2 linked regions of the Homo sapiens genome follow. The protein of the gene in region 1 binds, or shares a complex with, the protein of each later gene. Each region holds a gene or a part of one and is shown on either strand. Other genes may lie near its edges. The genes, in order: KLRC4-KLRK1 and RAET1L. A codon is read from its position in the direction of its gene.

Region 1 (7,291 bases):
AAAATCCCTTTTTGGACTAAAATATTCAATTGTTACCAAAATTTAAAACACACATGCCCTTTCCCTCAACAATTATCATTGTGGGAATTTATCCCAGAGAGAGACTCAAAAATATGCACAGATGGGTATGAAATGTATCATTATTTCTCATAGCAAGACCTAAGAAACAATTTAAATATCCACTGGAAAAAAAAATTGACAGTCCGTCAAAAATTAGATCTGTCCAGAGTTGTCAGTGAAATACAATGCAGCTATTTATAAATTTGGTATCCTTATACGCCATGAGGACTAATCACCAGGATATTGTCTTAGGTAAAAAAAAAAAAAAAATTCATAGGATATTTTGTGTATTATAGTTTCTTTAAAATGTATTTTTAATATGTAGTTAAGGGGAACGGTAATTTTTGTTTATTTTTAGTTGGCATGTAATAATTATACATATTTATGGGATACAGTGATATTTCCATTCAACTATACAATGTCTAATGACCAAATCAAGGTAATTAGCACACCCATCACCTCAACATTTATCACTTCTTTGTGTTGGGAACATTCAAAACCTTCTCTTCTAGCTATCTGAAAATATACAATAAATTACTCTTAACAGTACTCTCCCTACAGTGCTATAGAACACTAGAAAAATCCCGCATGTAGCTGTAATTTTGTATTCATTAACCAACCTCTCCCAATCTTCTCCTCCCCCCTATTCTTTCTAGCCTTAAATAACCACAATTCTACTCTCTACTTCTGTGAGCTAAAAGTTTGTATCTCCTACATATGAGTGAGAACATGTGGTATTTATCTTTCCATGCCTGATTTACTCTACGTAACATTATGTACTTCTGACTCATCCATGTTGGTGCAAATAATAGGATTTCATTCTTTTCATTCTTTTTTTTATGACTGAATGGTATTCCTCTGTGTGTGTGTGTGTGTGTGTGTGTGTGTCTGTGTGTGCTTAGCTATTTATCTGTTAATGGACACAGGTTAATTCCATATCTTGGCTATTGTGAATAATGCTGCAATAAACATGGGGGTGCAGACGTTACTTCAATATACTGATTTCCTTTCCATTGGAGAAAGACCCAGATTGCTGAGTCATATGGTAGTTATATTTTTAGTTTTTTAAGGGACCTCCATACTGTTTCCATAATGGCTATACTAATTTACATTCCCACCAAAATTGTATAAACATTAGCCTTTCCCTGCATCCTCACTGTCATTTGTTATTTTTTGTCTTTTTAAATAATAGCTATTCTAACTAGGGTGAGATGATATTCATTGTGGTTTTGATTTTCATCTTCTTGATGATGAATGATGTTGAATTTCAAAAAATATATCTGTGGCTATTTGTATATCTTCTCAGAAATATCTATTCAGATCCTTTGCTCATTTTCAAATCAGTTTTTGTTGTTGCTGTTGAGTTGTTTGAATTCCTTGTATATTCTGGATATTGGTCTCTTGTTAGAGGAATAGTTTGCGAGTATTTTCTCTTATTCTACAAGTTGTCTCTTCACTCTGTCAATTGTTTCCTATGCAGTAGAGAAGTGTGTTAGTTTGATACAATCTCATTTGTTTCTTTTTGCTTTTGTTGCCTGTACTTTTGAATTCTTACCCATAAAATCTTTGCCTAGACTAATGTCCTGTGGTGTTTCTCTTATCTCTTCTAGTAGTGTTATAGATTCAGTTCTTATATTTAAGTCATTAATCCATTTTGAGTTGATTTTTGTATATGGTGTGAGATGAGGGTCTAATTTCATTCCTCTATGTGGATATCCAGTTTTTTCAGCTTCATTTATTGAAGAGGCTCTCCTTTCCCAGTGTATGTTATTGGTGACTTTCTGGAAAAATCAGTTGGCTATAATACATGGATTTATTCCTGGGTTGTCTATTCTGTTTTATTGGTCTAGGTGTCTATTTTTATATCAATGCCATACTGTTTTGGTTGTTGTAGTTTTGTCGTATATATTGAAGTCAGGTAACGTGATGCCACCAGTTTTCTTCATTTTTGTTCAAGATTGCTTTGGCTATTCAGTCTTTTGTGGTACCATATAAATTTTAAGATATTTTTCTATTTCTGTAGAGAATGTTACTGGTATCGTGTTAGGAATTGCACTGAATCTGTAGATTGCTTTGAGTCATATGATTACTTTAACAATATTCTTTCTGTCTATGAACATGAGATGTCTTTCCATTTTTTTGCATCCTCTTTGGTTTCATTCATCAGTATTTTACAGTTTTCATTGTAGAGGTCTTTCACTTGTGTGATTAAATTTATTCCAGGGTATTTTATTATTTGTAGGTATTACAAATGGAATTGACTTCTTGATTTCTTTTTCATCCAGTTTGTTATTGGTGTATAGAAACACTACTGATTTTTGTATGCAGATTTTTGATCCTGAAACTTTACTGAATTTGTTTATTTGTTCAAAGGCATGTTGTTTAATTTTCATGTATCTGTGCAGTTTCCAAAGTTCCTCGTTATCAATTTCTAGTTTTATTCCATTGTTGTCAGAAAATTTACTTGATATAATATTGACTTTTGGAAATGTTTTGAGACTTATCACCTAGCATATGGTCTGTCCTGATGAATGTTCCATGTGCTGATAAGAAGAATGTGTATTTTGCAGCAGTTGGATGAAATGTTCTGTACATTTAGTTAGGTTCATTAGGTCTATATTATAGTTTTACTCTGATGTTTCTTTTATGATTTTCTGCCTGAATGATCTGTCCATTGCTTAAAATGTGTTGTTGAACTCCCCTGCCCTTATTGTATTCATCTATTTCTCCCTTCAGATCTATTAATATTTACTTAATATATCTGAGTGCTGTAATATTGGGTGCATATGTATACTTATAAATACTATATTATATTGCTGAAGTGACCCATTTGTCATTATATAATGGTCTTCTTTGACTCTTTTTTACTCTTTTTGACTTAAAGTCTATTTTATCTAAGTATAGCTGTGCCTGCTCTTTACTGGTTTTCATTTTCATGGAATATCTGTTTTCATCCCTATACAGTCAGTCTATGTGTGTTTTTATGAGCAAAGTGGGTTTCTTGTAGGCAATATATTGTTTGGTTTTTTTTGTTTTTAATCCATTCAGTCACTCTATGTCTTTTACTTGGAGAATTTAGCCCCCTTGCATTTAATATTATTATTGGTATGTAAGAACTTACTATTGCCATTTTGTTCCTTGTTTTCTAGTGGTTTTGTAAGTCTTCCTTTCTTCCTGTCTTCCTTTGTGATTAAGTTGCTTTCTCTGGCAGTGTATTTTAATTCCTTGATTTTCATTTTAGTGTATCTATTATAGGTTTTTGTTTTGTGGTTACTGTGAGACTTACAAGGACATCTTATAGCTTATAGCAATTATTTTATACTGATGACAGCTTAACTTTGATCACAAAGCAAAGAAAAACAAAACAACAAAAGAAAAAACTAAACAACTCTACACTTTAACTCCATCTCCTCTCACATGTTGACTTATGTTTGTATGGATTTACATCATTTTATATTGACTATCTCTTAATAAATTGTAATTACTATTATTTTGATAGAGTTGTCTTTTGGTCTTCATAAGATCTGAGTGGTTGAGGCACCACAATTACAGTATTAGAATATTCTGAATTTGTCTGTGTACTTACTTTTATCAGTGAGTTTTATACATTCAAATGTTTTCTTATTGCACATTTGTGTTCTTTTTTTTCTGACTGAAAAAACTCTCTTTAGCATATCATGTAAGACAGGTCTGGTGGTAATAAATTCACTCAACTTCTGTTTGCCTGAGAAATACTTTTTCTCTCCATCATGTCGATAGTTTTGCTGGGTACGGTATCTCAGTTGGCATTTTGTTTTCCTTGGGTCTTTGAATATGTCACCCCACTTCCTCTTGGCCTATAAAGTTTCTGCTAAGAAGTCTGCTAACAGATGTGTTGAAGCTTCTTTATATTTATTTTGCTTTTTAAATTTTGCTTCCTTTAAAATTCTCACTTTGTCTGGAGCTTTGAACATTTAAATTTTATATGTCTTGTGGTGATCTCATTTGGGTTGAATCTGCTTGCTAATCTTTGACCTTCCGGTATTTGGTTATTCATATCTTTCTCTGGGTTTGGAAAGTTTTCTGTTTGTCCACAGCCTCCCAGACCAGTGCTGTGCCAGGGCTTGCCCAAGGGCCATGGTTGCTATGGCCTGCAACCACTGAAATTTTCTTGGGACCAAGGCCACTTTAGTCAGCTGGTGATAAAGTGGGCTGAGACTAAGGTTCTTCCTGCCTAAGCAGTGGATTCACCTCTGGCCCACGGTGGGTCAAAATGCTCCCCATATGAGCACTGGTTTGGAATCAAGGGCCATGGGGTCTCTGTCTTTTGCTGTGTTCCAATGTGGTGGGGCCAGGTCTAAGTTCCGACACAAAGTCCCACACTCTTATTTCCATTTCCCAAGCAGGCAGTTTTTCTCTAAGCACTGCACTATCTGGGTTTGGAAGAGAGGCGTTTAGGCAAGGCAAGACCATCTTTTCTTACCTCTTTAATGTGTTTTTTCTCGTTATCATGCTAAAATCAGGGTACTGTGATAGCGCACCTAATTTCTTGAATTCTTTTGAAGGTATTTTCTTGCATGGATAATTATTTAATTTGATGTTTCTGTGAGAAGATAATCACTAAAGGGTTCTTCACAGCCAGCTTGCTCTTCTGCCATTTTCTTAATTGTTTTCTGATATACCTGTTGTTTTGCCTACCCATTGATTTTTTTCTCCTCTATCATTATTTATCTTTGTGGTTTGGTGGTTCTCTGTAGCCATAATGTTTGATTCCTTTCTCTTTCTTATTTGTGTATCTGCTCTACCAACCAGTTTTATACTTTTGTGTATTTTTATGATGATAGATATTGTCCTTTTGCTTCCAGATATAGGACTCCCTTAAGCATCTCTTGTGGGGCTAGTCTAGTGGTGATGAATTCCCTCAGTTTTTGCTTGTCTGGAAGAGTATTTCTCCTTTATTTCTAAAGGATAGTTTCGCTTAATACAGTATTCTTGTTTGGGAGGAGGTATTTTTTTTTTTTGGCATTTTGAATATATCATCCCATGCTTTTCTGGCCTGCTGCTGGAGAAAGTGGGATTGCTGGCAGTGGTGGCACTGGGCTCCAAGTGAGTGGCTCTGGGAATCTGGGGGGGCGCATGCATGACTCTCTCTATGCTGAGGACAGACTCTGTGCTTGGCTGCATCTCCTGTTCCCTGGGCATAGGGCTCTGTATAGGCTTGATGCAAGGGTCATGACTACACCTTTGGTTGGGATCACCTGGTGTGGCTATGCTACAGTCCTCTAGGTGGATTTGGTGGAATGTCAGCAGGGCCCCAGGGATGTGAAGATGCATAAGCTATTGGGCCCCAAACATGCGAAGATAAAGGAACTATTAGGCCCCAGGGCAGAGCGTACTTTGGTGGTGGCTACACTCTCAAAATGGTGCAGTGCTGCTGCAGCCTGTGTTCCAGAGAAGAGGAGGGACCCCAGTGTGAATTCCCACTCTGGAATAATGCAGTTATGTGGATGTCAGTGAACTCCCTATACTGGACTCAGGGATCGTGAGGAATGTGGAGCTCTCCTATACCTAGGATAGCAGGTATTTATAATGGGAATGTGGACTGCTGGGGAGCTCCTGTTTACCTTTTCTCCTCAGTGGAGAGTCCCTCTTGGCTCCAAGCTGATCCATGTCACCTGCTTCTCTTCCCTTTCTATGCTATCGCCCTGAGCATCTGTGCCTCAGAGAGACTTGGTCACTTTCTTGCTGAATTCCAGCCTTCTCCCTTCAACACTCTATTCAATGTGTGGTTATCTACTTGTTGTTTTGGTCCTTTGTGGAAGTGAGTGCTGGGTGCCTGTAGTTAGCCATCTTGATGATGCTTCCTCCTTCTTTATGTTTATTATTGTATCTGCATAAAAATAATAAATCACGGCCGGGTGCGGTGGCTCACGCCTGTAATCCCAGCACTTTGGGAGGCCGAGGCGGGCGGATCACGAGGTCAGGAGATCGAGACCGTCCTGGCTAACACGGTGAAACCCTATCTCTACTAAAAATACAGAACATTAGCTGGGAGTGGTGGCGGGCACCTGTAGTCCCAGCTACTCGGGAGGGTGAGGCAGGAGAATGGCGTGAACCCAGGAGGTGGAGCTTGCAGTGAGCCGAGATCGCGCCACTGCACTCCAGCCTGGGCGACAGAGCGAGACTCCGTCTCAAAAAAAAAAAAAAAAAAAAAAAACAATAACAACAAAAAATCATAAGCATAATTTACTCTAGGGATGACTGGGGAACTTGTAGAGAAGTATAGAAGGAAATATTACATTGTTGTACTCTAGTTTTTGATCATTTGCGAGGTATTTATGTTCTGTTCTGGAAAAAATTATTAAGGCAGAAAAAGGATCAATACCACCTTCTCATTTAAAAAACTCTAATATTTATATTAAATACAAAGATACCCAAACCTTTTATGCTTCTTTCTCTGATCTGTGTCTTTTTTCTTTGACAGCATCTCCATTTTTTTTCTGCTGCTTCATCGCTGTAGCCATGGGAATCCGTTTCATTATTATGGTAACAATATGGAGTGCTGTATTCCTAAACTGTAAGTGACAACAGAGAAGTAGATTGCAACATTGTCAATTTAACAATGCTAATGTATTATTTTTGTTAGTATTCATAAACACAGACACATAAACTAGAAATATTAAATGTATCTTTGTCACATTTTTGCTATTAGTCCAGAAATTTGTAAACTATATTTGCTTATACTATAAGTTACTAACAATACAAACTTTTAATACTTATGGTTATTTTAATAGCATTATTCAACCAAGAAGTTCAAATTCCCTTGACCGGTAAGTGAATTTTTAAAATATTTTAGATCATATATTATATGTATCTACCTACATTATTGTGTAGACATGTATTCCATGATTAAAAAAGGAAAAAGTAATTAATTCTAGTCTGTAATACACTATGGCTTCTGTTTTCCTTTTAACAATGAGGGAATACTTGTAAAAAGTAGAGGCTACTTAGGTTTGACATCATCTTTCTCTCTCTCTCTCTCTTTTTTTTTTTTTTTTTTTTGAGATGGGGTCTCACTCTGTCACCCAGGCTGGAGTGCAGTGGGGTGATCTCAGCACAATGCAACCTTCGCCTCCCAGTTTCAAGCAATTCTCATGCCTCAGCCTCCCAAGTACCTGGGACTGCAACCTCTACCTCCTAGGTTCAAGCAATTCTCCTGCCTCAGCTTCCAAGTAGCTGGGACTGCAGGCGT
Region 2 (4,990 bases), on another chromosome or scaffold:
TCTGTTCAACCAGCACCAGCATCCACAGGGGTGGACCCACACCCTCTCCCACCTCCCGCAGTCCACGTGGGCTACTGCTGAAGATCCTCTGCCATCCAGGCCCTTCCTCCTCTCTTGCTAGAGAGGCCTGGCACCTTTCTAGCAAGGTCATGTGTTGACTGATGTGGGCAGAGGGGCAGTGGGACATGTCTGGGGACATGTGGTTTCTCAGCAGACAGAGACTTCCTCCTCCTCCTCCTCCTTGTCCTCATGCAAGGGGCGAGCACTCGCCTTAAACTTGTAGACACCACAGTTCTGGAGGGGGCACTCCTTCCTGGGCCAGCCCAGCCTGCCAGAGGCATCCTCTTATTGACACAGCGTGGAGGGGGGCTAACTAGGGGTCTTTTCCTCCCCACCCACCCCTCACCTGCCTTTCTCCACAGACCCTCACTCTCTTTGCTATGACATCACCGTCATCCCTAAGTTCAGACCTGGACCACGGTGGTGTGCGGTTCAAGGCCAGGTGGATGAAAAGACTTTTCTTCACTATGACTGTGGCAACAAGACAGTCACACCCGTCAGTCCCCTGGGGAAGAAACTAAATGTCACAATGGCCTGGAAAGCACAGAACCCAGTACTGAGAGAGGTGGTGGACATACTTACAGAGCAACTGCTTGACATTCAGCTGGAGAATTACACACCCAAGGGTAAGTTTCAGATGGCCCAGGACAGCAGGGAGCAGATACAGTGGTAGGTTAGAGGCATTTATAGTTTTCATGTAAAAATACAAAAGGGTCCTGGGCACGGTGGCTCACGCCTGTAGTCCCAGCACTTTGTGAGGTAGAGGTGGGCCGATCACAAGGTCAGGAATTCGAGACCGCCTGACCAACATAGTGAAACACTGTCTCTACCGAAATGCAAAAATTAGCCAGGCATGGTGGCGCATGCCTGTAATCCCAGCAACTTGGGAGGCTGAGGCAGGAGGATCCCTTGAACCCGGCAGGCAGACGCTGCAGTGAGCCGAGGTGGTGCCATTGCACTCCAGCCTGGGCAACAGAGTGAGACTTTGTCTCAAAAAAAAAAAAAAAAGCCAGGTGCAGTGGCTCAAGCCTGTAATCCCAGCATTTTGGGAGGCTGAGGTAGGCGGATCACAAGGTCAAGAGATCGAGACCATCCTGGTTAACACAGTGAAACCCTGTCTGTACTAAAAATACAAAAAAATAGCCGGGTATGGTGGCGGGCGCCTGTAGTCCTAGCTACTTAGGAGGCTGAGTGAGCCGAGATCGCGCCACTGCACTCCATCCAGCCTGGGTGACAGAGCGAGACCCTTTCTCAAAAAAAAAAAAAAAAATACAAATGGGAAGGTCATCTTACCCCTCAAGAGTCTAGAGGCAAGGCCAAGATGTAGCAGAGAGAGTAAGGCCAGCAAATTGTAAGGGGAACAGGATGGGGGTGCAAAATTTGTCAAGATCAGAGCTGATCTCTCTCTGATGGGGGCAGAACCCCTCACCCTGCAGGCAAGGATGTCTTGTGAGCAGAAAGCTGAAGGACACAGCAGTGGATCTTGGCAGTTCAGTATCGATGGACAGACCTTCCTACTCTTTGACTCAGAGAAGAGAATGTGGACAACGGTTCATCCTGGAGCCAGAAAGATGAAAGAAAAGTGGGAGAATGACAAGGATGTGGCCATGTCCTTCCATTACATCTCAATGGGAGACTGCATAGGATGGCTTGAGGACTTCTTGATGGGCATGGACAGCACCCTGGAGCCAAGTGCAGGAGGTAACAGGAGAAAAAGAAACGGGGATCTTAAATGAGATCAGAAATGGGGATCTCAAGAAGTTAGTTCTTGAGTTCAGCTTCAATCATCCCAGTGTACACGTTTATGTTAAAATGACCTCCTCGTCGGGCCCTCCTCCTGGGGTTACTGGCATGCCTGTGCCCTCCCACCCTCCTCTTCCTTCTCCCTCCTGACTCCTATTCCTCACTGCACTTGCTTCTGCTCCCCACACTGTGGATTTCTCACCAGCCTTGAAACTGCAGGTGTCACTGTTTTCAGAACTTTTTCCTTAGTGTTTCCTCTTTTGAGAATCACTTTTCCTTTCCTTTCCCTGGTCTGGTTCTGGAAATCCATCAAAACCACTTCCAACACCAGCCAGAGATCCTCCCCTCCCCAACTCTGGGGCATCACCTCCTCTTCCCCCACAGCAGGAGGGTGGGGTGTGTTGTCACCTTGCTTCCCTCAGCAGCTGTGTGAGCTCCCTGAGGACAAGACACACCCCGTCTCCCTTCCTAAGCCAGGACCTGTCATACTGGCTGCCCCACACCAGGGGGGAGGGGACAAAACTTTTGCCTTCCAGGATGACCTAGGGTGGCAGGAACTGAGGAGGTGTCTCCTCAGATTTGGGGCCTGGACAAGGGTTGTCACTTTTGTGTTTCCATTTCAGCACCACTCGCCATGTCCTCAGGCACAACCCAACTCAGGGCCACAGCCACCACCCTCATCCTTTGCTGCCTCCTCATCATCCTCCCCTGCTTCATCCTCCCTGGCATCTGAGGAGAGTCCTTTAGAGTGACAGGTACTGTGGGCAGAATTGGAAGTGGAGCAAGGAGCAGGTGGGTGAGGAGGCAGGATGGGGAAAGAGAATTCCCGGAGTCCCGCCCCTCCCCGTGGCTGGGACCTTCTCATCCTAACATGAGACAGGTGAATGAGACCTTGTGTTGCCTGTTGGCAATGTTGGCAATGACCTGGGCAGCTCAGCCCTGAGTTCTGATGGTTTCTCACCTTCAGAGTCCAGAGGGAAAGGGAGGGGCCCATACCAAGGCTCAGGGTCTGTTGAGCTTGAGAAGGTTTAGCAAGTTCAGGCCTGATTCAGAGCAGGTTCCTATTCAGGAAGGGTGTGTGGCCTGCAGGCAGCAGGAATTCAGACATGGGCAGTCCTCTTAATTGGGTTAGGTGCATCATGGTAGCTTTACATGAGGTGTGACAGGGGAAGGGGGATTCCATCTCTGAGGCTAAGAGAGATCTGGGTGTAATCCCAGGAGGAGGGGGCTGGGAGAGCCTTGGTACACCTAATTGAAAAGGAGGGAGTGCAGGGCTGCCTTCCCACAGAAAGTAGGTGGAAGGTGAAGAGTAGAGGCTGCTCAAGAGAAGGATTTTTAAAAAGTCAGTCCCATGTACCCGTGGGGTTTGAGTCTGGGCCCTGAGGCAGCTCCCCTGCCATCACACTCCTGCACACCCCAGATCCTGAGCCCAGTCATAGCCCTGCCAGGAGCAGAGTGGACTCAGAGGAAGGAGCATCTGAGCTGCTGCTGGGGTTCCACGGGCACCACTGGGCTGGATAAGGAATGGAAAAGGTGGAACAGGGACAGTCACCTTCAGAACTATGGGTGCTGCTCCCAGTGTGAGGTGATGCTCAAGAAGAAGGGGAAAGAAGGATGTTTGCCTGCAGGCCCACCAAAGGCCAAGGGCACAGGAATACAGAGCCCTCTCTTTGGAAGTCTGTCCCACCCCTTGCCATGTTTTAGACCCTGTCATCAGATGATAAAGAGGGCCTTGAGTGAGGGAGCGGACCCATCACTACCAGCTTCAGACCTGTGGGCCCCTCCACTCCATCCCCTGGTCAGGTGCAGGGCCTGGGCTGACTCTGTGATGTGACAAAGGAGGAAAGAGGTAGGTCCAAGCTGCAGTCGCCAGGGTTGGGGCTCAAGGGAAAAATAGGTCCCTTAGTGCAGGGGGCTCTGAGACATAGAGTGACTAGGGAAAGATTACCGTGGAAAAGTGATCCGGGTTCTCTGCCTCTTAAACCAACATTTGGGTCCTTTCTGAAGGTTAAAGATGATACCAAAAAGCCCCTGTGAGCACGGTCTTGATCAACCTCGCCCTTCTGTCTGGCCAGCTGCCCACCACCTACGGTGTATGTCCAGCAGCCTCCAGCAGATGATGATGACACCATGGACCCAATAGCTCATTCACTGCCTTGATTCCTTTTGCCAACAATTTAACCAGTGATTATTCCTAACATATTATGCAATTTTCTCTTGGTGCTACCTGATGGAATTCCTGCACTTAAAGTTCTGGCTGACTAAACAAGATATGTCAACATTTTCTTTCTTCTCTTTTTGTTTGGAAAATCAAGTACTTCTTTGAATGATGATTTCTTTCTTTCATTACTGACATGATTGTCAGTAAAACAATCATGTTAGACTTCAGACCTCCAGGGATTCTTTCCATGTCCTGAAAGAGAATTGTTTAATTATTTAATAAGAAAAAAATTTATATTAATGATTGTTTCCTTTAGTAATTTATTGCTGTGTACTGATATTTAAATAAAGAGTTATATTTCCCAAAAACCTACTGAGTTTAGAATTTTGTTGTATTACTCAGTAGAGAATTAATGTTATTTCATTTTTCCTCCATGATATGGAGTAATAAATGAGTGATTCTGCCAGACTTTGTGTGGAAAAAGAGAATCTACAAAACATGGCTGAAAAAAATCAGAGACAAAACAAATACATGGAAAAATATTTCATGCTCATGGGTTGGAGAATCAATATAGCTAAAATGGCCATACTTCCAAAAGCAATTTATAGATGCAACACTATCTCTATCAATACCAATGTCATTTTCCACAAAATTAGACAAATCTAATCTAAAAGTTCTTTGGAGTTAAAAAAGAGCCCAAATAGCCAAAACAATCATAAGCAAAAAGAACAAAGCCAGAGACACCACATAGCCTGACTTCAAACTATAATATAAGGCTACAGTGATCAAAACAGAATGGTACTGGTACCAAAATAGACACTTAGATCAGTGGAACAGAATAGACAGCTCAGAAAGAAACCTTCACACCTTTTAACTTTCAACAAAATCAACAAAAAAAGCAATGAGGAAAGAGTCCTAATTCAATAAATGGTGCTGGGATAACTGGCTAGCCATGTGTAGGAGAACGAAACTGAACCTCTACCTTTCACCATATATGTAAAATAACTCGACATGAATTAAAGATTT

Evidence for each region.
Region 2: the proteins of KLRC4-KLRK1 (region 1) and RAET1L are in contact, whole or in part, in a crystal structure (PDB 4S0U), measured with the Homo sapiens proteins. Residues at the interface, in NP_001186734.1 of Homo sapiens: Lys150, Ser151, Tyr152, Ile182, Met184, Lys186, Leu191, Lys197, Tyr199, Glu201, Asn207; in NP_570970.2 of Homo sapiens: Val93 (codon at 614), Glu103 (codon at 644), Glu154 (codon at 1,590), Asp177 (codon at 1,659), Met180 (codon at 1,668), Ser181 (codon at 1,671), His183 (codon at 1,677), Tyr184 (codon at 1,680), Ile185 (codon at 1,683), Met187 (codon at 1,689), Gly188 (codon at 1,692), Asp189 (codon at 1,695).

The regions. Positions count from the first base shown.
Region 1 is NC_000012.12:10,379,025-10,386,315, reverse strand, and holds part of KLRC4-KLRK1 (NKG2-D type II integral membrane protein), read left to right. Parts: intron 1-6,479; exon of another isoform or gene 6,480-6,523; coding exon 6,524-6,616; intron 6,617-6,833; coding exon 6,834-6,869; intron 6,870-7,291. Other genes in the region: KLRK1 (NKG2-D type II integral membrane protein), read left to right, coding at 6,524-6,616, 6,834-6,869.
Region 2 is NC_000006.12:150,017,676-150,022,665, reverse strand, and holds the end of RAET1L (UL16-binding protein 6 precursor), read left to right. Parts: intron 1-422; coding exon 423-686; intron 687-1,479; coding exon 1,480-1,761; intron 1,762-2,426; coding exon 2,427-2,536; 3' UTR 2,537-2,558; intron 2,559-3,810; 3' UTR 3,811-4,332; downstream 4,333-4,990. UniProt on the Homo sapiens protein: Binds and activates the KLRK1/NKG2D receptor, mediating natural killer cell cytotoxicity.